3 separate regions of the Homo sapiens genome follow, and all the other regions are linked to region 1. Evidence: fine-mapped expression QTL. A gene starts in region 1. Each other region holds a variant in brackets. All regions are shown on one strand. Distances are between the middles of the regions. Region 1 holds the start of RRBP1 (ribosome binding protein 1). Region 2 overlaps RRBP1 (ribosome binding protein 1). Region 3 overlaps RRBP1 (ribosome binding protein 1).

Evidence for each region.
Region 2: its variant is fine-mapped to the expression of RRBP1 in whole blood (TOPMed, PIP 0.99).
Region 3: its variant is fine-mapped to the expression of RRBP1 in whole blood (INTERVAL, PIP above 0.99).

Annotation. Positions count from the first base shown.
Region 1 is chr20:17,677,856-17,688,144 of GRCh38, reverse strand. RRBP1 (ribosome binding protein 1) reads left to right here and starts at 5,903. Exons shown (of 25, transcript NM_001365613.2): 1 at 5,903-6,117; 2 at 8,070-8,146. RefSeq lists enhancers at 5,233-5,292, 6,546-7,218, 7,410-8,609 and silencers at 5,573-5,992, 6,223-6,552, 6,583-6,632, 6,663-6,972.
Region 2 is chr20:17,614,157-17,624,445 of GRCh38, reverse strand. It overlaps RRBP1 (ribosome binding protein 1), which reads left to right. Exons shown (of 25, transcript NM_001365613.2): 14 at 2,499-2,591; 15 at 2,673-2,756; 16 at 2,899-2,988; 17 at 3,639-3,731; 18 at 4,076-4,147; 19 at 4,718-4,813; 20 at 5,767-5,850; 21 at 7,607-7,714; 22 at 8,437-8,520; 23 at 8,917-9,015; 24 at 9,566-9,709; 25 at 10,226-10,289. The coding sequence ends at 10,264. Among named protein-coding and RNA genes, the nearest start is that of DSTN, 49 kb to the right of the region's middle. RefSeq lists enhancers at 9,085-9,808, 9,809-10,289. The variant G/T (reference allele first, on the strand shown) is at 4,527.
Region 3 is chr20:17,644,788-17,655,076 of GRCh38, reverse strand. The region is part of intron 3 of RRBP1 (ribosome binding protein 1); the gene reads left to right. Among named protein-coding and RNA genes, the nearest start is that of RRBP1, 32 kb to the left of the region's middle. RefSeq lists silencers at 3,022-3,101, 5,713-5,842, 6,492-6,581 and enhancers at 5,994-6,697, 6,762-6,851. The variant T/C (reference allele first, on the strand shown) is at 6,283.

The sequences.
Region 1 (10,289 bases):
AGCCAGTTGTTAAATATTTACCAGCACATCATCCACCATGTCTTGCCTGGAATCTCGGAACAGTCTCCTAATTTGAGTCCTGAATCCTCCATTACACTGTCCAATCTATCCTGCACATTGCTGCTAAAGTGATCTTTGAAAATGCACATCAGATTGCATCATTCTTCTGCTTAAATCTCCCACCCAACCTCAGCTTCCCATGGTATCCTCAGGCCTCCGTGGTCTGGGACCTTCCTGCCTGCAGACCCCCTTCCTTTCTCTCCCTTCCATTTGCCCATGAGCTCCAGCCACACAACCTTCTTTCTGTTCCCTGAACCAGCTGCGAAGATCCTCCCTGACCCAGGATTTTTGCACTTACCCTTCCTTTTCCCAAGACAAGATCAGCTTCTTTTCGTCATTTAAGTCTCAGGTCAACCATCACCTCCTCAGAGAGGCTTTCTCTGTCCATCTTCTTCACATCCACTGCGCTCCCCCTCTCCAAATCCCCATCCCTCTCCATCACCTGAGCCCATTCTCATTTCCTTGTAGCCCATTGCACCACTTCAATTCTTCTTACTTATTTATTGGTTGCTTTGTCTACTATCTCTCTTCCCACTAGAATGTGAGCTCCGTGAGAGAAGACCCTTCCTTTGTTCGTGGCTCTCTCCCCAGCACCTAGAACAGTGACTGACACTTAGTGGGTCCTCAGCTGGATTCATCTGTCGGATGAATGGATGTACATTCCTTCTACCTTCTCCACTCCCATTCATTTCTTAGCCCTCCACGATCTGGTGGTGTCCTTACCAAATACCCCTCCTCTAAAGCTGTTTCCCCAAGGTCCCTGGTGACTCCTGAGTTGCCATGTGCCCCGGTCTTCATCTTGCTGGATTTTTAGGCTACATTTAACAGTGCTTACCATCCCCAATTCTTGAAACTCTCTTCCCTTGCTGAGGCCATCCTCACCTGATTTACCTTTTCCATCTCTCCTTCTTGGACTCAGTAGTTGATTGCATCACTGGTGCCATTGCTTTACCCTTCCCTGTATTTCCCCGCCCCTTGAATCTGGGCTCACCTATCCAATACACCTTGTATATGTATTTCTGCTTATTTTCTTTTCCTTCAACCATCACCGTGAGAAGGGAATGCCCCTTATAGCTTGCTGATCACAGGAAGAGGGGGTGAGCCAGGTGCAGCAGAGCTTGTAAGGTGCCCCAGCCAAGCCCAGGCTGGAGGTGAGCTCTCAGGCCACCCAGAGACCTATGAGTGAGCCAACCAAGATCAGCCAAGCCTCAGCTGACCCACAGATGTGTGAGCTCTGATAAGAAACCATACTTGTTTTAAGCCACTGAGTTTGGGAGTGGTTTGTTACATAGCAAAAGCTGATTGATACATACTCTTTTGTGGGTTTTTTCCTTTCTCTGTTCAGGACTCAAGCATTTTCTCCTGTTCCCATCCACATGCAACTCCCACCCTATCCACTGGTTATAGTCATTGCTGTCCTTGGGTCTGAACCTCCAAGGGTATGCTTAGGTTTCCTAATTGCATCACTGACCCTGACAACAACCCCTGAGCCTCAGACCTACGGAAACATTGTCTCCACCTGGACTTGCCTTAGGCTCCTGAAATCCAACATGTCAAAATACAATACAACATTTCCCCCAGCTTCTGTCCCCAATCTGTTCATTCTTTTGTGTGCCTTGCCCCAGCAGTGACACCACCATGCTCCCTATCACTCAGGCCAGAAACAGGGCTCATGGGTAACCCCTCTCTCCTTCACTCCTGCTGGTCTCTAAGCCTCACTTGCTACTACTTCATGTCCTAATACCCCTCCTGAAGGACCTTGCACCTCCTACCCCTGCCACTGCCCCATTCCAGCCCTTGTCACCTCTCACCTGAGCTATTGTGGGTCTTATAACCCTGTGGGCCCCAAACCTAGCATCCACCCAAAATATAGAACGTCAAAGGAGTCATCACAGCTGTCATCAATCACAAACCCTTCCTTGAGTTGCTACTCTCAAAGGATTAGGCTCAAATCTTGCCCCTTCTATAGGCACAGCACACCTTCCACGACCTGGCGCTGAATGCAAGAGTTATTGCCATGAGCCTTGGGGACCAATGTAACTCCTCCGACGAGCCCTGTGACATGGGCAGGTTCCTTGCTCTCTCTGTGCCTCGGTTTCCTCATCTCTAAAATGGAAATAATAACTCTACCTCCCTTATAGGGTTGTACTGAGGGTTAAATAACTTTACGTATTTGTAGCGTGTCTCAAATGGTACCTGGCACAAGAAACCTAAACATGTTCTCTATTATCACAGTGGCTTTTATTTTCACATGATATTTTATTGTACTTGTCATTTATCATCCTTTCATAGTTGTTTGACAAAGCAAAATCTCTTTTTAAACTGTGAGATATAATATATTCCCATCTTCCTGTCTAGTCTTTCGGATAATATTTGCAATTTATTGTCATGAGTTAATGGACCATATTAGGTAATTATTCTTGTATGTTTAATTTTTTTCTAATAATAATGCTTTGTTTTTAATACACAACTAAAACCAAATACATCCTTTTTTTGAGTCAGGTTGATTGAAGCATAATTTGCTTCCAAGCCAAATGTACTCTTTTTAAGAGTGTACAATCCTATGAGTTTTACCACAGCCATCACTATAATCAAGATATGAAACATCTGCACCACCCCAGGGAAGTTCCCTGTTTCCCTTATGATCACCTGTGTAGAACCAGCTCTTCCCAGCCTCTCCCTCGCCCTTCAGGCTTTGCCAACAACTGAGTTGTTCAACAGATAAACTGAGATGATGTGATCTCAGATCATCCTCTCCCTCCACCTCCCCCTCTCCTCCTTCTCTTTCTCTGTCTTCTTCTTCTTCCCCTTCCCCTTCCCCTTCCCCTTCTCCTTCTCCTTCTCCTTCTTCTTCTTCTTCTTCTTTCTTCCAACCTGGAACTCTTGGGCTCAAGCAGTCCTGGGGCTAGCTGGAGCTGCATGGGCACACCACCACACCTGGCTAACATCATGCCTTACTTTGCCCATGCTATTCCTCGCCAGTGTGCCCTTTTTGGCCTGGCTACCTCCCACTTCTTCACACCTCTGCTGTCAGCCTCTGCTCCCCTCAGGGTGGGGTAACTCCCCCGGCTGGGGGCTCCCAGACTGCTGACTTTGTGTTGAAATGACCTGTTCCCATCTGAGAGCCCCAGCCTGGAGGCTGGACTGTGGGATGGGCTTTCTCGTGCTGCTGGAGGGCTGCATGATTTAGCAGAAGACTTGAGCCTGGGGGGATGCCTCTCACTCCCACCACAGGCAACCCTTGTCCATCTAGTCCTAGGGATGGATCTGGTTTTTCCCAGATACGCCTTGGGAGAGCTGACGAGGCTGCAGGGGGTTAAAGATGGGTGTCCACAGGCACAGCAGTGGCTGTCAAAGTCGGGCCACCCTGAGGGTGTGCAGATCTGCCCTGACAGAGCCTGGTGCAGCGGGACTGATTTCTTTGCCCAAAGGGCATGAGGATGATGAGGCTGGAAGTCTTCACAGCACATTGGGGCTGGCTGTTGGCAGATGAGGGGCAAGGACAGAGGAAATGCAAAGGCTCAGACAGGGCTGCTCTTCCATCCCGAAACAAATGTTGTGTTGAGGCCAAATCAAATGTTAAGTTATGTAAGGGAACAAACAGGGAGCCCCTTTTCTGTAAACACTCCTCACTCCTAAGGACTTTGTAATGTTATCGCTCATGGGACAATATTTACAGAACACGTATATTCACAAGCCTCTATTCTGTGCAGGTGCTGTGTCGGACTATGGTTCACAGTGTGGGAGACACTGCTGTGGCCCCCGACATGCCTCCAGGCACTCACCATTCTGCCAAGGGCTTCTTGCTGCAAGGCTTTCTCCAGCTTGATGGGGGCGGGGGTTAAAGTCCCCCCAGAAGAAGCTGTTAACCAATGAGGACTGGGAGTGGCTGGATAAATAACCAGGTCCTCACCCCTCAGCTGGGACGTCTCTGGGGTGTGTTCTACAGTTTCACAGCATCCCCAGAGACGCCGAGCCCTGTGTGCCCACACCAGTCACAGGCTTGATGTTGGTCCCCTTATTGGCTCCTGCTCATCCCACTTCTCCACCAATGTTTCTTATGATTATCCCCCAAATGAATGATTGAACAAACCCTACTGCCAGGATCTGCTTCCGGAAAAAGATAAACAGTGAACAGGATAAAGGAGGTCCCTGTCCCTGGACAGGCCCTTGAGGGCAGCTGGGTCTTCACTGGACCTATGTGTCATTCTAGGCTGCTTGCCCAGCTTAGCACTGTATACCGGGCACTCCACAAACACCGGTGAATGAATGAATGAATGAATGAACGAATGAATTTCCTCCCTGAAACCCAGAGGAAGGAGTGATTGTCCTAAAGGAGTATACCCATGTTCAGAAAGGTTAGATGGCCCAGCCCTGGTCAAGTAGGACTCATTGGTAGCAATTGCCAGCCAGAAGCTGGGATTCTTGACTTTCATTTGAAGCCGGGTCTCACTGCTGGAAAATGACTGAGTGTTCCAGAGTTAATCCAGGTTAATTCCTGCTGATTAATCATTAATGGGCTAAGGAACCGCCAAGATTAAAAATAGGAATGAACAGTTTAATTTCAACCCAATCGCTCTTTATTCCCCATGAAGGCTTGTATTTTTCACATCTTTCTAACAACAGCTAGTACAGTACTAGTGACAAATGGGGACAGGGAAGATTGAAAATTGTCCAAGAAATAGATGTTAGGCACGGGATTCTGCAGCAACAGGAGCTAGGGAAGTGATGGGGGGCAGTCTAGGCAGCCTTTGGTCGCTCAGAATCCAAAATTCCAAAGAAGCTGGCTTTGGCTCAAGTTCAAAGGGTTGGCTTTAAGAGACGCTGACATAATGGTTAAAAATCAAGCCTAAAATTATTTTAATTTAAAGACTTGACTAATTATGAAGACTGAGTGTTGGCTGATATTGGGGAGAAAGTCAGGGAATGAGGAAGTACCAGTTGCTCCGTTTTGTGGGACACGGATGAGTTTTCTTAGGTTAGAACCTCTCACCTTCCCCAACGCATGGAATAAAACGCCACAGAGTGGATTGTAATTATTGCTCTGCCGGCTGTGATTTGGTTGAGTATCTTAAATAGACCGTGCCTCAGTTGTACCCTCCCTAACAACGAGGGCGATGACATCCGCTTCAATTCCTCGTGCACCTTCTGGCTCTTCCACCCCAATTCCTCCATTTACTGAAGGAAATTCCTTCTGGTGCTGATTGCAATCTCTTTGATGATAAGAACTTGCTCTCCCTGGGCTGACCCCCAGCAGAGCTTGTCCTCATACCCGGCGGCCCGAGGGGGCGCTGCTTCGGGGGAAGTTAGTTGGGTTTAAATAAAGCAGCTTCCTTGGCTGTTCGCGGTTGCGCAACCCTGTTCAGCCACCGCCATGTCAGCCCAGCGGTATCCAGAGGCGCAGGCCCGGGGTCGCCGGGACCCGAACCTTCTGCTTCCCGCCTAGGCAGAGCCGGATCCTAGTCAGAGACTGCTGGGAGCGCCGCGGGCCCAGAGTGGGCGGAGCTGGCCGGAGACCCCCCCCTCGGTGGGCGGGGCGTTCCTGCTCCGCCCCGCCCCGCGCACGGCCGAGCGCCGCGCCGCTCGGCCCCGCCTCTCCCCAGCCCTGCCCCCTTCACCTCCCCGCAGCTCCTCCCCTCTCCCATTGGCCGAGGTGGAGACCCTCCTCTCTGCCCAATGGCCGCCGCCGCGGCTCGGCCACCCGCGTCCTGACTGGCCAGCGACCGGCAGAGTGGCGGGGTGCGGACCAATGGGAAGAGGCGGCTCGATGAATGGCTGGCCCGGGTGGGGAAGGCAGGAGGCGGCGATCCCGGCGGAGGGGGCCGTTCGCCAGCTCTGAGGCAGAAAGTGCCACGACTCCACACGCGCGCACGCAGCCAGCGAGCGGCCGGAGCGGACGGCAGACGGGGCGGGCGGCGTCAGGGTCGCAGCGTCTACAGCTGCTCGGGGGCGGTTTCTTGGCGGAGGCTTGGCCGGCTCCTCTCTCCCGGCTCCGCGGCGGCTGCGAAGGCGGCGGCTCCTGCCCTCTCGCTTTCCCTCTCGCGTCTCTGGCTGCAGGTAAGAAACTTGGCCGGGCCCTGCAGCGGCCGCGCGCGGGCCGGGCCGTCGGGGGGCCGGGGCCGGCCGCGCTGCGCCGCGAGTGACACGTCTCCTCGGCGGCCCCTCCCCCGGCCCGCCCGCCGCCCGCCGCCTGCCGCCGCGGCCGTGCACCATCGGGGTCGGGGTCGGACTCGGGGCGGGGGTGCCGGGCAAGCGCCGTACCGGGGCGTAGGCAGGGCGCGCCCCGTGGTGTGGACCCCGCGGCCCTCGCCGTCCGGGGAGCTGCGGCGGCAGACGGGCGCGACGTGGCGACCGCTCCCTGCCTCCCTCCCTCCCGGCAGGGCCGTCGGGCCGGCCAGCGCGCTCCGAAGTTGGGCGAAGAAAGTTGGCGGCGGGGCGGGGCGGGGCGGCGCACAGCTGGCGGAGGAAGGGGTTAAGTTTCGGGAAGCCGCCGGATGACGTTGCCGGGCTGGAGTCCGGGCCGGAGGGGTGGGGTGCGGGCGGAAGGCGGCGGAGGCCGGCCGAGGGGAGGAGGGCGGGATTGAATGGGGGCCCACGGGCCGAGCGCGCCGGTCCCGGGCCGCGGCCCGCTGGCGCTTCGCGGGGCTGGGACGGCCCCCGACGGGGCGGGCCGGGGCCGCAGGGCTCGCGGCGCAGGGACCGGGTCTGTCCATGGCACGGACGCCGGGCGGCCGCGGTGGCAACTTCCCGGAGTGCGGGAGGCGGCTCCCTGCTCCCCCTGGCGGCGGGGCCGGGGCCACCGTTTCCCCGGCTGGGCTGCGCGGAGCCTGGCTCGAGGGCTCCCGGCGGGGGGACGAGGGCGCCCGGGGCCCGGCCCGCCCCGCCCGCGGCCACGATGAATGGGCCGGCGGTGCCAGCCCCGGGCGGAAGCGGACACCTCCGGGCCGGCCAAGCGCGCTGGCACCCGGCCTGGTGCCCGCCCCGGCCCGGCCGGCTCTCCCGCTGCGCCCTGATTAGGGGAGGCAGGCCGGGGTCTGCGCTTCCAGTGGGGCGCCCGCAGTGCTTCAGGGACCCCTCTCCGAATGATAAGTCGCGAGTTTTAGCTCTAGAGTGCCCCGGCTGGCGAGGGTGACCCCGACCAAGTTGTTTCGTTCGGGGTCTCCATTTCCTGGTCTGCAAATCGGGGCTCCTGTTAGCTTCGATTTGCGAGGAAAGCTGTGGAGACCCAGCACTTGTAGGAAGGAGCCACAAGTGTTGGCTGTTCAGTTGGGATGCTTTTGTTGGGGGGTGCTGGACACGGGAGGAAGGTGGGGCCTGGCTCCGGCACTGCGGCGGGCGCGGGGCTGCAGAAGTTGCACAGCCGGGGTTCTACACCCCGGACCACGTACTGGCCGCCTACTCGCAGGTCCCATAGCCCCTCTGAATCCTAGTTTCTTATCTGTGGCCTGAAGACAGCACCACCCACTCACAGGGTCGGGAACCACGCCGGGAAGTGCTGGGACCTTGTACAAACAGAAGGCAATTTGGCAATTACTCTGAGAGGTCAGAGGTTAGGAGAGACTGGGAAGCACCAAGGAAATGAAACTCTGAGGGACCTGAGGAGCCTCCCACGTCACTGCTCAGCTATTCACTCTGCGTGCTGGAACCTTCAGGGTAGGGGCCATCTGGATGGCATTTTCAGGAATTTGGAGAAATGGGCCTGGTAGGGCCTCATATCTCACATTAGATACCTCTTCAGAACTGGGTGTCCCCAGAGACCCAGGACGTCTGTCTGGCACTCCCAGGAAGAACAACTGCGAATGTTACCCCGCCCTGTGCAGCTGGGGGGCATTCTCCCACTGCCCCGCCTCCCTCCTCACACTCCTTGTTTGATTTAACTTCCTGTTAATCCGACACCTAGAGAAATCTGTGACCCTGCAGCATGTCACTTACTGTGTGATGTCTTGACTCGTTTACGAACTTGCCAAAGGTCACTCCCACTATCATATGCCAACCTCTTTCCCTTCCAGAAAGAAGCTTCCGGTTCTGAGGTCCTGGAGGTGCCATTTCCCTCTCTGTTGAAGCAAAGGCCGGGGCAGACCTCCTAGTAGGTGAAGTTTTCCTTTTACATGGAGCACCGCAAAGCCGGCTTGCAGGGATCTTGGGCCAGTGGAGGCCTGGAGGAGGCTAAGGTTGGGGGAGGGGAAACCAGAAAGGGATCTTGGGGTTTAGGAGAGGGTTTAGAGCTCTAGGCACTATAACAACTCTCACCTTTCATACTTAGGAATCTGCCTCTGAACATTTACAGAGAGATTAAGAAGTTACAGTGGTTCATGGTATATGAGTATTTTTTGGTGATGGAAGAGTTTTAAATAAATCTTAAATCAAGTCACATTTGAGCAATTATGCTCTTTAATGAAATGAGCCCTAACTCAACAGGCTGCAATAATTACATAGCAGCAAACTCAGTTTAAATGGTTGAATGCCAGTGATTGAATTGGAGTATTGATTTATTATGTAGCAGGGACACCTTTTAAAAGTGTCGGGACCCCAGACTCTTCTTGTCTTTTTAGCCCTGGGAATTTTAACTAATAGATGAATGACACATAGAGGATCAACAGTTCTGTTGAGACAGCAAGTTTTTCTTTGCTAAAATCTTGTTTCAGGAGAAACAAAAATAATGGTCAAGTCAGAATGATGAAGGCAGGGACTGTGCTGTCCGTCTGTGCATGCTGGGCCTGCAGTGGTTAAGGCCTGGCCTATAACATCATAAATATTGGTTATACCAGGCGGACAGCGCCCCCATACCTGTTAAACTATTCCCAGCTGTCTCATTGGATAAATGAAGCTTAGCCCAACTTGGTTTTTAAGGTTCACTTTTTAGAATCAGATTCCACAACTGTGGTTTACATTTAGGCCTTAAAATAACCCTGTTCTAGGGGGTGGGAATGGTTGTCACCCATTCAGTGGATGAGAATGTGGAGGTCCAGCTGGTCAGAAGGTTGTCAGGCCAGTTCCTGTTGCCCAGTTGCTAGGCGATGTGGGCCCGGCCTTCCAAATGTTCCCTCCTGGCTATATACCTCCACCTTCCTGGGGCAATAATTACCCAAGGGAGGACACAGAACGTGAAGATCAAAATTAAGAGCTTCAGTGGCAGGAAGGTGGGGAGGCATTTTGAAAATCTGGCAGTGCTGAAGGTATTTTTCATTTCATTTTTTTCACCGAGGGTCTCCTGTGTGGTGGGCCTTCAAACACCGCAAGTGAGACCTAGTTCTTGCCTGAAAAAGCTACTGTCTAGAACTGTGTTGTCCAATACAGTAGCCACAAGTAGCAATTTAAGTTTAAAACAATTCAAATTAAGTAAAATTAAAAATTCAATTTCTGAGTCAAATTAGCCACATTTCAGGTGCTCAGTAGTCATAAGTTGGTCAGCGTGGCTGTAGATGGTTTCCACCATCACAGAAAGTTCTAGACAGTGCTGATGTAGAGGCAGCTGGTATTCTGTAAACATTCATGTCCCTGTTCCTCTTGATCATGTGGTAATATGTTGAACCACATGAAATTGCCCATTCTGTAGGTCAAAACCAGTTGACTAGTGGCAGTTGATACACTTCACCTGATAAGATCTCACCCTGAGAAAGCATTAGTCCCGCCTCTTTGTGTGCATTGTAAACTGCATTCCAAGAAAAAGGAGTGGGAGGGGGGCCACACAGATAGTGGCCCTTTCCTGGAGAGATTTTTTACCCAATGCCCTCAGCATCAAAATGGTGACTTGTAACAAAGACAGAAAATAAATTGATATTAGGTAGAAAGTGATGGCTTGTAAGGGAAGGTAAATATTTAATTTTAAGTGACAGTGCCTAGGCAAGGAGGCACTCTCACTTAGCATATAGAAAATTAGTTCAGGGGCCTCCTAGGAGACTTTTCTTAGGCAGACAAATTCTGGCCGAGTCTCCTGAAGCAGACAACCAGACACCCCCAAAACCAGACGTGTGTGTCCTTTATGTGCATTCAGTAACATGTGTCTTCCACCTGTCAACAATGGGCAGCAACTTTAACTTATCAAGAACATTTTGTGATTTCTAACTTAGATTTTTTTGGCAAGACTAGAATACCTGCCCAGTCCCGAAACCTTTTCAGTTCCAAAGTATTGGAGTTCCAGTGTTCTTGGGTGGCATAAATTGCTTCCTACACCAGTGACTATTTACACAGCTCTGTTATTCTCCATATAACTTTTTTTTCTTTTTCTT
Region 2 (10,289 bases), 64 kb after region 1:
GAGGCACTAGGAACGCATAGAAGCACTAGGACACACAGATGCACTAGTACGCACAGACGCACTAGGACACACAGAGGCACTAGGACAGACACAGAGGCACTAGGACGTACAGACGCACTAGGACACACAGACGCACAGGTGCACTAGGACGCACACAGTGCACTAAGTGCGCACAGAGTGGCCTTGGCCTCAGAGCTCCTGAGTCCACGCCAGACCCCGGCTCTACATCCACCTCCCCCTCCCACCTCCTTCCCTGCCGTCCTTCCCTTCTTCACTTGCTCCTTTCCAAGAGAGGGATGGGGGTGCCCCCTTGATGGGCTTCTCCGTGCTGGTCTCTCTGGCTGAGGGTACAGAGCTGCTGGGGTGGGACTGGAGGCAGTGAGCCCGAGGCTGCACTCTTTATGAGCTTTTTTGGTGTTATTTCTGTTGTGTGTCCTTTTGTCGGGTAATCCTGCTGCTTGGGCCTCTGAAGTCATGGCCCAGGGGGCTCTGTGAGGAGACTTTTTTTTTTTTTGAGACGGTGTCTTGCTCTGTCGCCCAGGCTGGAGTGCAGTGGCGTGATCTCAGGTCACTCCAACCCCTGCCTCCCGGGTTCAAGCAATTCTCCTGCCTCACCCTCTCAAGTAGCTGGGATTACAGGCGTGCACCACCACGCCCGGCTAAGTTTTGCATGTTTTGTACAGATGGGGTTTTGCCATGTTGGCTTGGTTGGTCTCCAACTCCTGACCTCAAGTGATCTGCCTGCCTTGGCCTCCCAAAGTGTTGGGATTACAGGGGTGAACCACCACGCCCAGTCCCATGAGGAGTCTTTAAGTCACAGAGGGGAGGACATTGTTTGCAGCGAGCACTCGGGGAACAGAGGCCGCGTTGGCCCTGCGCTCCATGCTGTCCAGGTGGGGCGTGTGCAGGTGTCTCCCAGTGTCTGAGCCCACGGGTTGCTTTTGGGGTGCTGGGCTGTCCAGGAGCCAGTGAGGAGGCTCTGGCCAGGGGACATGGCCAGCAGCAGCTGCAACTAAAGGCCCTGCCCACACTTTGAGGTCACACACGTTTTCCTACCTCATGAAAGGGCCTCCACTCCCAGCCTCTCTCACAGGAATATCTGCCCCAATGGCAGGAGCTTTGCGGTGATTCCCAGGAAGCCTGAGGGTTGTATCAGATGAGGACAACTAGCTAGGGCAGGAGGTGAAGGATGGCCTCAGGCCACCCTGTGAGAGCTATAGTTAGACTCCTAGAATCTTGGCCTTGTAGCCCCCAGTGACCTCAGAGACTGTCTGGCTACCATGTGGTAAATGAAGCTGTGACCAGAGATGTCACCTGACTTGATTGTGGTCACACATCCAGATAGAAGGTGGCCTCTGGGTCTCCAGCTTGCCTTGACTCACAACTAGAGGCCTCAGTGGTGGTCGTGAGGTCAAGGGTCCACATGGGTCACGGGCCCTACCTGTGGATAACTTGGCCAGCCAGGAAGGGCCCGCTTCTCAGGTGTGCGTCAGGCCAGAGGGCGCTGCGCTCAGGCTGGGTGTCCGGTGGTCAGCATCCTTCATGCACATTCCAGGACTCTGCTTGGGGGAGTTAACACTCCATCAGCTCTGATCCAGGTGGAGTTCCTGGGGCCTCCCTGGGTCTTAGGCCAGGCCTGTCCAGGTGGTGGCAGGGCCAGACACAGGCTGTTACCCCAGCAGCCTTCCCCTCGGGGTGTGGGAGAGCCCAGCTCTCTCCCGGGGGACACTGTGGTCCTAGGCTTTGCTTCATGATTCCCTTGGGCCCCCTTTGTTTCCTTTTGTTTCCTTATCTTTGTTGTGCTTTGAATGGGGGCCGCTGGCTCTTCGTTGAGGACTGAGGGGGTGTCCGACCCAGCATGGCACAGGGTGCAAAGTCCCTGTCTCCTCTGAGTGGGCTTCTCCCTCTGCAGAGGGGGAATGCTGATCCACCCTCTCCAGGGTGGCTGGAGATGAGCCTCTCTGGGTTGCCCCTTCCTGGCTGCCACTAGCCCCTAACCGTGGTGCCGCCAGCAGACGCACTGCTTCCCTGCCTTCACCCCCATCCCCATCACAGCTCTAGATTCCAAAACATTGGGGGCCATGAGTGTCCTCCCATCCCTTCTTCCTGCCCTGGCTCTCACACATCAACTGCGGACCCCCCAAATTCCCCCACACATGCACACATGCCCAGAGAGCTCGGGAAGTGAGAGCTGGTGGAGACTGTCCCTGCTGGGAGATGTCCCGGGAGCTGGCACCTGCCATCTTGGCCTGACCCAGTATGCTCCTTTCATCAGAGCTTAGTCTGTTTGAAATGGACCAGATACAGGCTGGGTAACCCCTCTGCTTACAGTCAGCCCCATGGAGCCTCATCTTCTCCTTTGATTCTTGTCGCTTCCCTGAAGAGCTGAGGATGTGCCCTTTCTGGGGCAGAGACCCGGGCATATCAGTAAAGACCTGGGGAGGTGCCCCACACCTCCACAGCTGAACACCTTCCGCTCTTCCCCACCCACCCCCCAGGAGGAATCGGAGAAGCAGCTCTGTCTGATTGAGGCGCAGACCATGGAGGCCCTGCTGGCTCTGCTCCCAGAACTCTCTGTCTTGGCACAACAGGTAGGAGGGGAGGGTGGTTCCCGGGGACCTCACAGTTCTCAGGGAATGTCCCCGGGTCTCACCGAATGTGTTTCATTGCAGAATTACACCGAGTGGCTGCAGGATCTCAAAGAGAAAGGCCCCACGCTGCTGAAGCACCCGCCAGCTCCCGCGGAGCCCTCCTCGGTAAGTGTGGCTGCCTGGCAAGGCTCCTCTGTTGGGCTCCCCTGTCCCCAGGAAGAGGGGCTGCCCCAAGTCATTTCAACGGGAAGCCAAGAGAAGAACCTTTGTGTGTGGCTAACTAAACACCTGTTCTTCCCTCTCTCAGGACCTGGCCTCCAAGTTGAGGGAGGCCGAGGAGACGCAGAGCACACTGCAGGCCGAGTGTGACCAGTACCGCAGCATCCTGGCGGAGACGGTGAGCATTGGGAACCTGTCAGCTGGGCATCCCTGGGAGGCTGCAGGGAAGGAGAGCTTCGGGGCCTATGGGGCAGGAGGTGGCCTGGTGTTTTGGAAAAGCCCACTGGCCTTGTGACTCTGGGCCCCGTTCTTCGGCTGCATGGTAAATGGATGGCACCCTCTGAGGTCGTCATTGTTTCTAAGCTGAAGAGAAGGCCAAGTTGAAGGTTCGGGGCCGGTCTCTAAGCTGGGGAAGGGGAAGGACGGGGTAAGCAGCTGGTGACTGCCAGGTTGAACCCCGTTTGTGACTAAGAGCAATGCCAGGTCTAGCCCTGCCACTCTCTGGCCAGCCCATCCTGTGCTCCTCGTCCTGGGCCATTGACACACTTGGTGCTGGTGGCAAACCCCGGCAGTAACAAGCATCCTAGTGGTCCTGTGCAGGTCACAGACCTCATTTCCTTGCCTGGCACTGCAGCCACACTGGCCCACTGGCCAGAGGACCTCCCTCCCAGGACAGTGGTTGCCTTCCCTCCCCACCTAACGCTGGCGCTCATGAAGTCAGCAGGCGGAGCACGGCAGGTCACCAGGGCTGCAGGGACAGGAAGATGCGGTTGTGTGGTGCGGGTCTCGGGAGGGAGAGGGCCCTGCCTCACCTCGGTTTCCCCCCAGGAGGGCATGCTCAGAGACCTGCAGAAGAGCGTGGAGGAGGAGGAGCAGGTGTGGAGGGCCAAGGTGGGCGCCGCAGAGGAGGAGCTCCAGAAGGTATATGCAGCCCTGCCTGCCTCCCGGCGCCGTGGAGCACATGAAGCCCAGGGGAGAGTTGACAGGATTGTCTCTGTCACCTGTGAGACTCGTGTGTCTCGGTGGGGCTTTTCCACGACACCCTATGAAGCACAGTTGCGGGATGACAGCTCAGTCCGTCCTCCAGGAGGCCCCCGCCTAGGAAGACACTGCCAGATGGCGCCAGGGTGACCGTCCCAGCTGGGCGGAGTGGGCACCCCCGGGGCTTCCTAAGTTGGGTCAGTCCCGCTCGGGTCCTAGCATGGCCTCGGAAGGAGACACCCCCAGGTGCTCGTGTCTGACGGAGCCTTCCCCTTGCTTTGTAGTCCCGGGTCACAGTGAAGCATCTCGAAGAGATTGTAGAGAAGCTAAAAGGAGAACTTGAAAGTTCGGACCAGGTATGTGCTCTGCTCAGAGAACTCTTTCTCTTGTCCCGGGAGCCTCTTTGAAAGTGACGTTAATGCAGAGGACACTTCACTGATTTCTTCCTCATGGACCGTGTGCCTTAAGAGAGGCATTCTCTCTCAAGCCAAGGGATCTTGTCCATCCTGTTTTTCCTTAATGAGAGACATTGACTACCTCAGAGGACCCTGAGACCCAGCCACGGGCCCTGTGCAGACCTGCCCAGCCCTGGTGAACAGGGCTTCTGCCACGGCCTTCACAGTCAAGGTGGCCCCACTGCCCCCTTCAGACGCCACAGGGAGCCCTGGAGAAGGTACCCTTGGTACCTGCTTTTGCAAGTAAATCTAAGAGCATGTCAGTCCCCAGGAGTGCCCG[G/T]GTGCAGCCTGCCACTTTCCGTAAGGGGTTCTCTTGCCGCGGACTAGTTTCTCGTTTGCTTGGTAGCTGGTGGGCCTCAGGGATCTCCCGAGAGGCCTCACCTATCCCAGGGCCAGCCTGCTCCCTGAGGTGAGTGCCCTTTGAGCAGAGGCTGCTGGCGCATGCGTGTGCGTGTCTGTGCATCTGTCCAGGTGAGGGAGCACACGTCGCATTTGGAGGCAGAGCTGGAAAAGCACATGGCGGCCGCCAGCGCCGAGTGCCAGAACTACGCCAAGGAGGTGGCAGGGGTGAGTCTGCCCCCCAAGGAGTGCAGCCCCTGCCCAGCAGATCTGCGGTCCTCCCTGAGCTGCTTCTCCTCAGCCCTGTGGGAGCAGCTCTCGGTGACATAAGCCTTGAAGTCCGAGTCCTCAGGCGTTTGCCCGAAGCCTCACAGGCCCCTCGTTGGGCTGTCAGGCCTGAGGTGTCTCTCAGGGCAGGTTTCAAAAAGGCAGCCTCCCAGCCAGGACAGGGGCAGAGCCAGGCAGCCCTGCCCCGAGGGAGGCGTTTGACGTTCTAGGTTATCCCTCCGCAAGGGGATTCTCTGCCTGGCTTGCTGATGTCATATCTGGTGGGGAGTGGATTTAGATCTGACACTTTTTCTGCTCTTCAGAAGCAGAAGCACAAGCCCAGTATCCCAATTCTGGTTTAATCTCAAACTTTTGGGCCAGGCACAGCGGCTCATGCCTGTAATCCCAGCACTTTGAAAGGCTGAGGTGGATTGCTCGAGGCCAGAAATTTGAGACCGGCCTGGGCAACATAGCAAGACCGCATCTCTACCAAAAAAAAAAAAAAAAGCCAGGCACACTGGTGGGCACCTCCGTTCCCAGCTGCTTAGGAGGCTGATGCAGGAGGATTGCCTGAGCCCAAGAGTTCAAGACCAGCGTGGATGACAGATTGAGACCATCTCTGAAAAAAAAAATCATCTCCAACTTTTGGCCCTTTTTTGCCAGAGATAATCAGTAAACATTTGTGAAGGCCTGAAAGAGGTACGCAGTGAACACCATTCTTCCTAAGTCCTCAAAAAAGAAATCGTAGCTGTAGGAAGCCTGGCGAGCCCTGTGCCGGCCCGATGCTGTGACCCTCCTCAGGGTTTTGGTTAAGTGGATGTGTTAGGTTTTATGTTTCGGCGCTAACTCACGGGGACTGGTTTTCTCCTTTTCTCTCCTTTTTTCCCATCACCCGCCTCTGTTTTCTCCCCAAGCTGAGGCAACTTCTCCTAGAATCTCAATCTCAGCTCGATGCCGCCAAGAGCGAAGCCCAGAAACAGAGCGATGAGCTTGCCCTGGTAGGTGGCCTCCATGTCCCCATGCCAGGAGTGTGACCTGGGGCGTTGCGTGTGTGAGATGCATTTGCCAGTCATGCGTTTGTGTCCACTCAAAGATAAAGCCTAGGGAAGGGACAGTGTCACCCGTTGAGCAGCATGGGGCCGGCTTCTGGGGGCCTTCCTGCACATTTGCCCAGAACTCTGAGCTGGGCCTGTGGCTGTTGGGACCAGGGTGCTCCCACTCCATCTCCCGTCCCCTGGCTACCTGGTCCCCTGTTCAAGGTAGTGAGAGCTCTGGGCGTCTGCATTCCCTGTGAGCCCATTGTAGTCACCTGGGGGCGTCAGGGATATTGCAGTCCCTGGCATCACAAGACCAGGAAGCCTGGGGGTTCCTCCTGGCCTGGCCACCCATCGCCCTGGGGCTCTCAGCAAGTCCCGTGCCTTCTGTGGGTTTTCTCACCTCAGTGACAGCTCAGATCAATTCAGTCAAAGCCACAGGCATGCAGGGAAGACCTGCTCCACGCCCGGCCCCATACCAGCTGCCGGGTGCAGAGAGCAGCCCCCTTGGCAGACCACTGGAGCTCTGCCTGTGCAGGTGGCCTCTTGAGTCCCTCCTGGTGTTCAGCTCAGGTGTCTGATGCCAAGTCCCAGCTCCTTGGCAGGCTCCACCCAGCCTCACCGGATCTGGTACCGCCCCAAGGCTGGTGTTGTGAGCAGCACCCTGTGAGGCCGCAGACATGTTCTGTTTGATCTGCGGTGTTTTTTTAAATCTTGAATTAGTTGTCAACAGGGAGAAATTGGGAAATTTTAAATAAAAATGGGCTGGCATTCCCCCTGCAGCAGCCAGTGAGTCCGGCACACGCTCCCAACACCCTCGGTCCCCCTTGGTCATTCAGGTCTTACCCGGACCAGAACACCAGAGGGCAGTGCTGCCTAGGCCAGGTCTCCTCCTGTGTCTAGGGGCCACTCACTGAAGCCTTGGCTGAGCGAAGTCTGGGTGACAGGCCCCGGGGGCATGGCCCAGGCCGGGGATGTGCAGAGAAAACCCCCTGGAGTTTCTGTTGTCTTCCAGCTGTGCAGTTCGTTATTTGCATTGGGAGGGGCTGTTCAGAGGGAGGGAAGAATGTCTGGGGTTCCCACGTACCTGGGGTGGCCCCTCAGCGCAGGGTCAGAGACCGCCCATGTTCCCTGGGGAGCTTATGCCAAGGGCCCCACCTGGGTCTCCAATTGGAACCTCTACCTGAGCCTCTCGAGTGACACCTGCCCTTCAAATTGCAGGCCCAGTGGTTTGGGTGCAGCCAGATATGCCACCTAACCCCAGTGATGGAGCGTAGGGGTGGGGGACCTTGTTAGGCAAGAATGTTATCTCATAATCTTTTCTAGACCCCGGAAAGGGCTCTGAGCAGTGGACTGCATCCTTGAAGGAGAAACGGGGGGTGTAGACAGTGTGGCGGCCACCCCCCGGTTCCATTCGGATTCCTTTGCTCTGTGGGCCATGCCCATCAGGGGTCACCTCACTCCCAGGGAGGGCTCCCCTCCGGTTGGGCTTGGAGCAGAGCACATTGGGTCTCATTAGCCCAGAGGCTTGGTGGCCTTGGTTTGGCTCAGGTTGGCGGCGGGGGTGGCCAGACATAGGTCACAGTTACCAAGCCAGGTCCCCTGAAGGGACTTTGGCTGTTGAGAGCAGCTACGGTCCTCCGAGGGGGTCCCTGCAGGAGTGAGCATGGTGGGTGTGCGACTGGCTGTGCATTTGCAAACACACCCCTTCCTGTTCCAGGTCAGGCAGCAGTTGAGTGAAATGAAGAGCCACGTAGAGGATGGTGACATAGCTGGGGCCCCAGCTTCCTCCCCAGAGGCGCCCCCAGCCGAGCAGGACCCCGTTCAGGTTAGGGCGGTGAGCTGGTCCCCAGACACATCACTAATCCCAGAAGAGTGCAGGCCCTGCTGCCTCCGTTCGGACTAAACCCCGCACTGGCTGCTCCAGCCTCCGCTGCTTCCCCACCCCACCCTGCTTTGCCCCATTTGGATCATCCAGGTTCGGAGAAAGCCACAGAGCATGGAACAGAAAGGTGGCCAGGTGGAGAGGCTGGAGGAGTTGGGGGGAGGTGGGACTCGAAGAGGGAGTCCGTGATTTGGGGTCTGCACCTACAGGGCTCAGGAGCAGCTCTGGGCAGGGTCTGCAGCCATCGAAGGGGACTGTCTCCCACTGCAACCCCGGCTGGGACATCGCTAGCAGGATATTCGCTCTCCAGAGTTTTGAGCCCGGCAATAGCCACCAAGAGTCCTCACCAAGAGGCAGGGCCTGTCCCTGGGGTGGCCATGGTGTGGCTGTTAAGGGGGTTGTCATGGGGCCAGGGCTCGGAGGCATCGTTCTTGTCCTGTGAGTCTCGTTAAAGGCCCCTGAGGTTGCAGAGGCCCCATCAGCTGCTCCTGAGCCACACCGAAGTCTGTACCAGGGGCTGAGGTGCCCTCTCCCCAACGAGGGGAGCGTTGGGGCAGGGAAAGGGGAAGCTAGAAGCAGCTAGAGAGCGGTGCCTGTGCTGGATCCCTGGGCCCCTGGAGGGTTCCTCACCGGGCTGCCGGGTTATGTTTGCGGTGTTTGCACAGCTGAAGACGCAGCTGGAGTGGACAGAAGCCATCCTGGAGGATGAGCAGACACAGCGGCAGAAGCTCACGGCCGAGTTTGAGGAGGTCAGGCCCTGCCTGGTGGCTCTCAGCCCCCATCAGCCCCTGGGCCCTGAGTCTCCAGGGAATGAGTGGGTCAGCCCTGCCCCGCTCGGCTGTGCCCAGCAGCACCTGGGCTGGGCCTGGGCCTTCTGGGCAGCAGTGGGTGGGGCCCGGGCAGGTGGAGCACAGGCTGGAGGCACCTTGGGAGCCCTGTGGGTGGTCTGCATCCCTGAGGAGCCTTGAGGGCCTGGGGCTGGGTCAGAACTTGTGGGTCTGGCCCACTCATTCCAGCTACAGGATGGAGCTGTTGCTCCATCAGGCTGGGGGGGCCCCCTGGTCCCCAGGCGTGCTCGGTAGGGTCTTGACAGCACAGCCGTTTATAAGACGTCTCACCCAGACCTCACTTCCCTCTCCGGCAAGGCTCAGACCTCGGCATGTCGGTTACAAGAAGAATTGGAGAAGCTCCGCACAGCCGGCCCCCTAGAGTCTTCAGAAACAGAGGAGGCCTCACAGCTGAAGGCAGGCAGGGGCTGGGGCGGGGGTCACACCTGGAGGGTCTGCTCTGGGGCTGGCGCCACTCTTGGCCTCGGAAAGGGGCCAGGAAGGGGAGAGCCGACCCCACCGGGACCTGCCCTTGGCACTGGTTCCCCTTGTCACTACCCGGGGCTGGGGTGGGGACTCCTAGCCCTGCAGTGTCACATGGTCACATGGCAGCCATTAGTCCTGGTGGCTGTCGAAATGTGAAGCATGTAGAACGTGAAGTGCGTTCCTCAGCCACACGTCCAGCGCTCAGTAGTCAGGTGTGTCTCCTGTGCTGCCTTGGACAGTGCGGAGTAAACTGCTCCTGCCCCAGGAAGTTCTGGTGGTGCTGAGAGCACAGGACCCAGCCCTCACGGTCAGCATGGGCGGTTTCCTCCCTGTCGTCACCACCTATCTCCGGGTGACCAGGAGTTGCCTTCCTTGTGTCCCCAGAGGGCTCCAGCCCCTGGCGTCAGGGTCCTGTGGGCATAGCTGGGGTGGCCCTCCTGCCGGTGCAAGGGCTGATGCCCGTCAACCTTCTGACCATCAGGAGAGACTAGAAAAAGAGAAGAAGTTAACAAGTGACCTGGGGCGCGCCGCCACGAGACTGCAGGAGCTTCTGAAGACGACCCAGGAGCAGCTGGCAAGGGAGAAGGACACGGTGAAGAAGCTGCAGGAACAGCTGGAAAAGGCAGTGCGTGCCTGGCGCCAAAGCAGGGCGGGAGGAGTCGAGCTGCCGGGAGCCCCGGGGAGGCAGGACCGGGAGAGGCAGAGCTGGGCGGAGTCGTCAAGCTGCTGGGAGCGCTGGGCTGGGAGCCCCAGGGGAGGCAGAGCTGGGCGGAGGTAGTGGGGACAGAGACTTCCTAACGAGGGCTTCAGCCCACCCGGCCCACCACCCACCCTTCTGGGGTTCCCTTGCTGGGAAGCGAGTGTCTGATCCCCCTGCTGGCCCAGGTCCTCACTTTGCACCTGTGTGGGCCCCTTAGCCAGTGCTCCAGCCCCTGCCCTGCAGGATGATGGTTTCCCCTCAGCTCCCACCAAGTCCTCCCTGTCCCCCAGCCCCAGGGGTCTGTGGCTCCTGTTCTCTGAGGGACTGGAGTGGCTTGAGGGGGTCAATCCAGGGAGGGACTAAAGGCCCAGGGTAGAGGGCAGGTGGTTCTGCCATGGCTCGTGGCCCAGCCCCCCTCACGCCACCTGCCTTCGTTCACAGGAGGACGGCAGCAGCTCAAAGGAGGGCACCTCTGTCTGAGTTTCCTCTTTGGAAAAAGAAGTTA
Region 3 (10,289 bases), 33 kb after region 1:
TCCAACGAACTGATGAAGCAAAGAATTTCCTATTAAAACCTTCCTGATATAATGCCCTTCAGAAATTATTTTAGAGAGATAAAATTGGGTCTTGATATATTATCTTAAATACTCTCTTTGCCATTGTGAAAAATAAAGGAATAATGATACTTCCTTAATTCCAGATGTTAAAACAACTGAGAAAGATCCCTGGAAGGCAGGGGCTGCTGGAACTCCTGCTCCTGCTTGCTGTCTCTGGACATAGCTCAGCACCGCAGGCCTCTGCCTGTGGGTTCATCTCAGTAGTTCGGGGGTGAAGTGCAGAGAAGGACCCGAGAGCCACAGTGGACAGACCTTAGGGGCTGAGGGTGGTTTATATAATGGCACAGGCTATAGAGTCACCCAGGATTGTTGATAGGGCAGTGTGGACTTGGTGATGGGTCCAGAGCTCCAGCCACAGTGAAGAGACCCTCCCTGATTCCATGATGCTCAAGCAGCAAAAGCTCAGGACAGATGAAAGGAGGCATTTATGAACATGGAAGGGAGTCACTAGCAAACACACACGTGATTGAGTGGTAAGGCCCGAAATTCAAGGTATTTGAAATCCCAGTTAACAAGCAATGTATTCAGTCTACTTCTTTTCCACAGAATCAGTAGTGCATATTGGTAAGCCTCCAAGTTTATCCACAGAAAACCCGTAAGTCCTTAATGTGTCTGGAGTTGCGTGGTCCCAGGTAGAGATCTTCTCACTGGGGGAGCAGCATCTGTACAAGAAGAAGCATTTAGGACTCTGGCTTAAGATGCTTCACACTCAGCACCTGCTGCCACCAGTTCCATCATGGGGTCACACTCAGGATGTAGGGGACATTTGAGTCCTGGAATGACAAAGGCTCTCCTACAGGGAGACTGTGAAGGGAGGGTGCCGGCCCTGGGATGTGAGGAGGTCGAGTCTATGTTACGTGGACGGCCCACACCAGTCTGAGCGGGTAGCGATTGGGGTGGAGAGCCCTGTCCTTTTGTTGTGTCCTTTAGTGCAGTGGTCAGACCCTGCATGGCCATTATCAAACCAAAACAGACAAAAATGCGTTTGTGCATTACTGTTTAACTGTGCAGTGTGCTTTTCTCTAGTCTGTGCTGGTGGGTATCTGATATTAATGTCCCCATCAACATTGGTCTTTGGTGGCTGGGGGTTGTGAGGCATGTATGTGTGGCTCTTTCTGTCCACCTTGGGACCAGGAGGCTGTTCTTTTTTTTTTTTTTTTTTGAGATGGAGTCTCGCTCTGTCACCCAGGCTGGCATGTAATGGCACGATCTCGGCTCACTGCAACCTCTGCCTCTTGGGTTTAAGCAATTCTCCTGCCTCAGCCTCCCAAGTAGCTGGGATTACAGGCACCCACCACCACGCCCAGCTGATTTTTGTATTTTTAGTAGAGATGGGGTTTCACCATGTTGGCAGCTGGTCTTGAACTCCTGACCTCAGGTGATCCACCCGCCTTGGCCTCCCAAAGTGCTGGGGTTATAGGCGTGAGCCACCGCGCCTGGCCAGGGCCAGGCTGTTCTTGGCGTGTGATCTGTATGTATTGGTCTCATCTGGACTCCGTCACAGTCTGCTTATTCTTTAGCACACGTATTTTCTGCTCTTTGCAGCTGACGGGCTCCAGGGACATTTCTTGATTCATTTGTGGCTACCATCTTCTTACTAACAGCATGGGTGGGGGGCCCAACCCCTAAGCCACTGCCAGGTGGCGTGTGCAAGAAGGTCTGTCTGCATAGCTCCCAGCTGCTTTGCAGCTCTGACTGTAAAGGACAGAGGCCCTGGGTGGGCTCAGTGAAGTGTGCACCTCTCCTCACAGTTAGTCTGCTTTTCCCACACACAAATAACACGAACACAGGGGAGAGCCCGAGGGCGCGCTGGGCACGGTGGGCATGTAGCTGCATCTGGCAGAATTCCCACCACTGCAGTCAGTTGTCGGTGGCGCTCTCTGGATGCTTGGCCGTTTTGCCTTGCAAAGGCCCTTCTCTGCTCCGGGCACACTTCATCACTTGCAGTGATTTCCCACCTTGTCTCTGTGCCCTCGGATGATTTTCTTGGTTTTCAGTTAGCCATGAGCTGTGGTGCCCGAGGGTATGAGGCAGAAATCTGTGAGTCCACAGCATGGGTTTTCACCAGTGGCTTGTGGAATTGGTTTCACCCTTGCTACGTCTTATATGTGGAGTTTTCATGTTCCAGAATTATTTGGATTTCCACTTAACATTGGCGGCTGTGACCATGTTGCCTGGTGAGCAAGCCCGGATGAGACACGTTAGACCGTGGGTTCCTCCCTTTGTTGGAAAGGCTGCGGCGGCCCCCACTGGCTGCCTTGTGCCTCGTTGCCCCTCTGCTGGGGCTGAGCTTCCTGTCAGTCTGGGGCCTGCCCACTCCAGCTTCTCTGGGGGTCATGTGTGCCCAACCTGAGGCAACTGTAGGCAGAACTCCGGGTGGGCTGACTGGCCCTGGGCATCTAGAAACACAGGGACCTGTGGGTGTGAGTGTGTTGGGTGGGAGGGGTGAGGTGGCATGAGGGCTGTGCTGCGGGGATCTGGGAGGTGCTTGGCAGTGGGTTCTAGATCACCGGTGTGGAGCAGGCCAGGACGGGAACTCCTCCCATGAGTCCAGGAGGCCTTGACTTGGGCAGGGGAGGTGTAGGGCCTAGGGCTGTGCTGTCCCATATGGGAGGCACTGGTCACATGGGAGCATTTAAATTATCACCTAAATCAGTCAGAAGTAAATAAAATTAAAGATTCCATTCCTCAGTCACACTAGCCACATTCCAAGTGCCTACTAGTCACATGTGGCTAGTGGCTCCCTTTACACAGTGCAGAGACAGATCATCTCAGTCAGAGCAGAAAGTTTTGCACAGCAGTGCTCTAAACAGGACCTTCTGAAAGGAGGTGGCCTCTTGGATCACTAGCCGGTCTGTGCAGACCTGTGTTGGTGTTGCACAGAGGCTGTGGCTGGCCCATAGCACAGGACAGATTAGCAGCAAAACCAGTACTGGAGCTGGGCTCCACCAGAGACTTGAAGTGCTTCTTCAGTCTTCCTAGCCCTACCTGTTACCTGGCTGGTCCAGCAGGGCCCCCTGCTGACAGGTGCCCCAGAGGGAGACCTGGCAGGAGTGGTAGGCCCAGGACATGCTTTTGCAGACCCAGGCTGGAGCTCTTCCAGAACTTCTGCTCTGATTTTCCTCCAAGAGCAGATGGGGGCCCTGCAGCGGGTTTTTACCACTTGTCCATGGCTGTATTTGACAGAGAACACCTGCCTTCCTAATCCTTGCCTTTTACAATTTATTATTACATAAATATGTGTTTCCAGCAAACAAAATTCACAGTATGGAGGCATGGAAGGTGAAAATAGAAAGTCTTTTTGCTCCATCCCAATCACCATCCGCTTCCCGGGGGTGGAGGGGCGGGGGGGTAAATTCATTGTGCTCTTCACATGGGCACCCACAAACGGGAGCTGCAGTGCACACTGCTGTCTGCTTAACAGTGTGTTGGTGACATCTTTCCGTATTGCACCTGCGAAACTGCCACATTCAGCTGCATAATATTCCCTAGCATGACTGTATTGTAATTTATTTAAATGACATTTAAGTAGTGTGCAGCTATTTTGCAGCTAAAATTAATGCTGCAATGATGTACATACACTGTTGTGTGTCTCTACAAAATAAAGTCCTAGATAAGTAATTGTCAAGTCAAAAGGTGGGTACGTTTTTAATTTAGGAAGACAGTGCTGCATTGCTTTCCAGAAACGTTTCACAATTTACGATGAGAGGCCCACAAGATTTGTTTTCTGACTCAGCACTCCTCACACGGTGCTGCTGTGCTACTCTGGGAATGATTCTAACTTCAGGAAGTTTGGGGAGCAGGGAGCATTATAAACCCAGACGTGGGATAAGGAGAAAGCCTCTTTCTTTGGAAATGAAAGGCACAAATTCTTTACTAAATATTTGGAGAGGAGGAAATTGATGGGATCCTCGAGAAGTGGAAATTCCCCAGAATGGAAGCTTCCCCGTGTTCCGGGTACTGTCAGCTGACGCACGTGTCCAGGCTTTAGCTGGTTTGTTCTCCGATAGTTAACTGAGCACCTATGCACAGTGTCTATTAGGAAAGTCAAGTTTCTAACACAAGACGTGTGTGTATGCAGTGGTGTTGGTTTTTAAAAAAATCTATTTTTATCCTCAGATTGAGTCTTTGTTTGCAGGATTATGCTGGTTTGCCTCCCACCTGGGCTGCCCTGATCTTGTACTAATCACCATCTGGGTGTTACACTGGCAGGAGAGCTGTCCCACCCAGCACCTGGAATCAAGTCTGGATCCTACAGTGTGGGCGTAGACTGAGGAAGTACATATGTACATTCTGAAGACCCCACAGTTAGCATGAGCTCCAGAACAGTGTACTTTTAACTGGAGCTTGCTTCACTCATTGTTGCTGCTGGTTGGAAACAGGTGTTTCCTCATTACCTCTGCTAGCACGTCACTCAGGGGATGCGGGGATGCAGGGTACTTGTTGCACTCTTGGGGAGTCTGGAGCTCACCCAAGGACCTGTGACCTTTCTGCCTAATGGACGGGGGTGGGTAACCCTGGGGACATGGCACTTCTGTCTTGGCTGTGGGCCTGCTTTCTGCGGGGCCCTCTTTCCCCAGCCTGCTGATGCAAGCCAGTTTTACTCTGTGGCCAGAGAGACCATTGTGTCATGGCCCAGGAGAACCCACCCAACCTCCATGAGGTGGCAAACACTCAGAAACAGGCATTTCAGAGGCCCATTCTTGCCACGTTGTCAGATAAGTCCATGTGGGAAAAAGAGGCCACCTTTGGGAGGTAGGATTATGGGTAAATGTTAGTATCTTCCTTTCACCCTTCTGCATTTTCCAGTTTTTCTATAACTTTTTTTTTTTTATGGAGAAGAAACAACTCCATTATGTGTCTCTAAGTCAAATAAACAGGCCCTCATTATACCAAAGCTGATGGAACTCTCATCCTTCTGGGTGTTTTGAGGCAGCCCTGTGTCCTCTGAGGAGCAGCAAGGAACACGTTGCTCCTTTTGGGGTCTGGAATGAGGAAAGGTAGTGCCAGCTCTTCTGAGGCCTCCAGAAGGAGGCCAGTGCGTGTCCCAGCCCTAGCACACAGGCATCTGGGAGGCATTCATGAACTGAGGTAAGGTGGGAAGTTAAAGGCAGTTCCCACATTCTGGAGCCTGGCAGTGCCGTGGTGGGAGGGGGCCTGTGAGCTCTGTGTCGTGTGCAGTCTCGCTGAGCCCCCATTCTACCCCTACAATAGGAAATGTAACCTAAAATCCCAAGTCGTGTTCTGCAATCTAATGGGGCTGGGGTCACAGGTCAGGGGGTATGGGGAAGAGTTGTCAAGCCCCCAGGAAACGGTATTCAAGGTGTCTAGGGTAGCAGGGCCCTTAAACAATTTGACTTCGTGATGGGAACACCCCTTGCTCCCAGCTCCTCACCCACCCACCCACCCACGCCTGTCCTCCCCATGTGTAGCCTGCTTTGCTCCAAACCCAGCGCTGCTTAGCACAGCAGGTCTGACGCCACTGCTCTCCCCAGCCAGGTGTTTGTTCAGATGTGCAGTTTAGGAGGCTGGTTTCCATGCCTTTATCCCTCGTGCAATTCTCTAAGGTGGATTTGAATTTTTACCTGTTTGACAGAAGCAGAAAGCAAAGCTCAGACTTCCCAGAAGTCATGCACATGACCAGCAGATGGCAGAGCGGCCGGTGTGGGCAGCCCCTCCCGAGGCCCCCGCCCTGCCCGGCAGGTGCCCCTGTGCCCTTCTCGCCGGCAGTTGCACAGAGAGGTGTACACGGAGATCAAGTCAGATACTTTTTCTTTTGAACCTAACTCAGTTTCTCAGGGTCTGAAGCTCTGAAGAAAACTCTCTGGGGCTTATGACCCTTTATTCACTTTCTGTGGAAGTTCTTCAAACCCAACTTTTTCTTTTCTTCTTCTTTTTTTAAAGAAGAACAAAAACATCCCCTAGGGAAGCGAGCCAAGTATCAGTGTGAGAAGCTGCTAGATGACACTCTTCCAGAAATCTCTTTTCAGCCACTTGAAAACGTGTTGAGGCTGGGACTCCGGTCACTGCCCCCAGACGGCTGTGGTCAGACAGCCTGGGATTAAAAATCCCCTGCCGTTTTCTGCAGGCATTAGGTAGAGTCCTAATTGCTGTTTAAACTGTATTCTCCTTGGGCCAGCCTGTGTGCCTTGGGAAGGGCCTTGCCCAGAGGTCCTCCAGGAATTGTCGTTCTTTTAAAAA[T/C]ATTGTGATGTGGGTTTTTTTTAACTCCAGGTATAAAATTGGTTTTGTTGAAATTTGGAGGAAAAAACAAAACTTTAAAGAGGAAAACAGTTCTTCAATCTATAGGATATTTTAAATTCCATTAGATACCATTAAATATACCAGTCCCCAAGTTTGTAGCCGATTACGTTTTTCTCCAACTAAAGGAAAAGGACTGATTGAAAGGCCCTGAATTGGGTTGTTCTTGACATTATTTGTACTGAGCTCCATTGCCCTTAAAGCTGCGGATGTGACCGTTCGTGGCATTTGGGGTCAAGTGCAGCTGCGCCTCCTTGGCCTGCTTCCTGTCAGGAGCGCTGAGCAGCGCTTGGGCAAGGCCGGGCTCTGTGGCCTGAGCTGGGCCTGGAGTCCACTGTTTGTGCACTGCCCAGGGCCTGCCTCAGCTGTGGGCAGATGAGCAATGAGTGAGAGCAGGAGTCGCAGTTTGCCTCCAGGAGCATTTGGTAGATCTTCATTTCCTCCAGGGTCTCATAAAGCTCACTTCCCCCACAGGCTCAGGAGGAGCCTTCACGGCCACAGTCCAAGAACGAGCAGTTAGAGGCCAGCAGTGATGTTGGCCGGAGCTCCTCCCTAGAGAGCGTCTTGCGTCCCACCTCGGGGTGGGACCCTGAAGGGAGCCGGCTCCTCAGGTTGAGAGAGACAGAGATGCCCTTGGCTTTGGGTCAGCAGGAATGGGGAGCTTGTCCTCAGCCTCTGAATCTTGGTCTGCAGAGGCTGATGACTGCTTGCGTGGTGCTGGGCTTCCAGGAGGCATGTGGGAGCCCTTTCCTGGGGCCCCAGGGTCTTCACCTTCTTACAGCAGACCTGAGTTTGGGTCGGGTGACTGGGGACTACAGGGCGTGGAAGGCACGCCAAGATTGCGATCTGGCTTGGGCAGCCATGCTGGGTGCCTTGGTCTGCACTGTCTGGAGTCACCCCGTGCAGGCCCGGAGGCAGCAGCTATTCAGACTACATGTGTGTGTCTGAGGGAGGCACCCTCAGAACTGATCTGGACAATCTCTTAGGAAATGAGAGTTTTTGCCACTGGAGTTCTTCCCCAAGCCCTCAAGTCCATGCTGTTTCAGGTTCCATTGCCAGAGTCCCTGGGTTGACACCTGGGCCTCTCTCCCACCAGCTCAGCTTCCTGAATACTCGGGCCCAGATCCTGGTCCTGGGCTCTTAGGACCCAGCGGGGATAGGCTCTTAGGACCAGGGTCCAGGCCAGCTGGTCTGCCTGCTTCCAGCCGCATCCCCCTGGGCATCCTGAAATCTTTTTCTCAAATTCAAACGCTCCTTCCTAGGCATCGCTTGTTGCCTACAGAATAAAATCCAGATTCCCAGGGCCTATGAAGACTTGGACCTAGTCCAACCTCGGGTGCAAGTCTGACACGCTAGGGCCCAAAGCCCCTCACCGTGTCCTTACCCAGCTATGCTTGGCCCAATGCCTTAAAGCCTTTCTCGGCATTGCTGCCACAATTGTTCTCCAGGTCCCCCTTGTGTCACTCTTCTGCCTTATGGCCCTGTGTCCTCTGCCTCTGTTGGCCACAGCCCAACCTATAACTTAACTTTCCAGGCCCAGCAATTTACGAACTGCTGGGTATGCAGGTGGTACATACTTTGTGTCTAGAGACCACCTGGCCCTGCCTGCCCTGATCAGGGCTGCTGGGCACCTGTAGCAGCAGCTGGAGCTGAGCCGGAGCCTTTTGTGGGGCCCATCCCAGGGCCAAGGCGATAATCCCCTCCTATTAACCACCAGCTGCTGCCAGGGCTCAGGCGGCAGTTCCTGGAGTGGTTCTGATACCCTCCCCGTGGACTGAGAGAGCCAGGTGTGCACAGTGCAGGGGTGCTCCAGCAGCTGATGTGGGGGGCTGGCCGCTGAGTCTCATGAGGCCACTTAGGGCTGAGATCCTCCTTCTATGCCTGAGCCCTGGCCATGGGGGATCCTGGAAATTATACAGAGAGAAAAGCCTCATCCAAGGACGCCACAGTTGACAGTGAGAGAGAACACTAAGTGCCTCTTTGCCAGATGAGTTTAATTTTAGGTGCCTGAGCCTCCCAGTGTGGTCGCAGAAGGGAGAGTCATTTTGAAATTTGGGGTGTGAGGTGCGTTATCTGAGCTGCTGTGAGCTGCTTGAAGGCCGGCCATGCTGATTTATTTTGCTGTGCGTTACCCTGCGCCAGGCATGGTTCCAAGCACGTTGCAACTTACTCTTTTCAGCCACGCTGTGAGGGGAACAATGATCATCCCCGTTTTGTAGGCAAGGAAACAGAAGCAAAGGAAGGTTAAGCCACTTGTCCAAGGACAAAGGTGGGAAGGAGCTGAGCTGGGATTCGACTCCAGGCCACCTGGTCCCAGAGGCCTTGCTCTGACCTTGGTGCCCCACTGCCCAAGGACAGAGGTGACCTGCAGACTGGACGTGGCCCACGGATGTGTTTGTTCATCTGTACAGTGGTTTCATTCATTTATTTGTTTTTTATTGAGTTAGCTGTCAGCAGTAAAGATGAGAAGATAGCACTTAAAAATCTCGTTTCCAGGCTCTTGGGCAGGCCTGTGGCTTTGAGGGTTCTGGCTCAGATTCCCCCATTGCAGCTATCACCTGGAGGTGAAGTGCCGTGCCCAGGACCACCCAGCTCAGGAGAGGCCACCCCCCTGAGCCCAGGCCTGTGTGGTTATTTGTCACAGTACCTGTCCCATTCCTGCAGGGCCTGGCCCCTGGGGTGTTGCTGTGTCCCCTGCCAGACAGAGGTCTGGATTATCCATCAAAGTGAGACACTGGCCTGCGTCTCTACTCTTGGGTCTCCTGCTCCCTGGTCACTCCCCAGGCCTCCTGGCCTGTCCCTTCCTGGTATTTCATACCCACCAAGATGGGCAAAGCGTTAGCCGCAGGAGCAAGCCCTCAGGGAGCTGAGCTTTTCCAGCATTCACTGCACCCTGGGCCTTTTGAAGTCTGTGATTTCACAGACTAGGTGTTGAGTCTGAGAGACTTAGTTTAGTGCGTTAAGATTTCACAATTCGGAAGATTACTGGTATCTTCGAGTATTTGCTGGAGCCCTAAGTGATGTGCTGGGCACGCCTTAGGCTCCCGTTAGTACGTTATTTAAATGCAACTCATCTGGAGGCCCAGAAATCCTGCCTCTGCTTCTGAGGGCTTTCCTTTTTTCTTTCAGTTGTGCTGCCCTTGATTTGGGGACAATTGAGACAGCAGAGTTTTTACCTAAAAGATTTAATGAAAAATGATTTGTAAAGTTATAGCTCTCTAAAAACAGTATAAAAGGTAGTGTTTGTATGAGTGTGGCAAAGGCTGTGGAAGTTTCTGGGGGGCCATGAGAGGTGGCAGAGGAGAGCGTTAACATTTTGCTGTACGCAGCTTTGCGTTTGTTTCGCGTGTTGCAAGTTTTTATTTTTCTGTTAAAATATCTAATAGAATGGAATTACGTTAGAAAGTTTTAATAAAGATTTATGAGAATGCCGCTCCGAGAACACTCTCGGGAGCACTCTGTGGACTGAGCCTGCGGCGGGTGAGCATGTGGCCATGCTGCCCCTGTGCAGGAAGCGGCGTCCTAGAGCGCGTGCCCTCCAGCTGCCTTATCCAGATGTTTCCCCACCCAGCAGTGCAGTAGGGGCCGTGGGGCCTGGAAGGGTGGTCTTTAAGGAGAGAGTTCAAGAGAGGCCAGAGCTCTTGGGTCACTCTGGAACCTCTGTAGGACCAGGGGCTGCCAGGAATTCAGCAGGGGGCACTTTGGGGGTCCCTGGTTCTGGAAAGGAATAGGCCAGCCAGTCCAGGAGAAACAGAATGTGAGCCACACACGTGTGAGCCATGGATGTGATGTAAATGTCCTCAGCCACATTTAAAAAGGCCAGCAAGAAACAAATGGACTGAATGTTAACGATACATTTTGTTTGACCCAGTTTATCCAAAATGTTATTTCAACATACAATCCATATATAAAATTATTACAGATACTTCACATTCTTTTTTTTTCATACC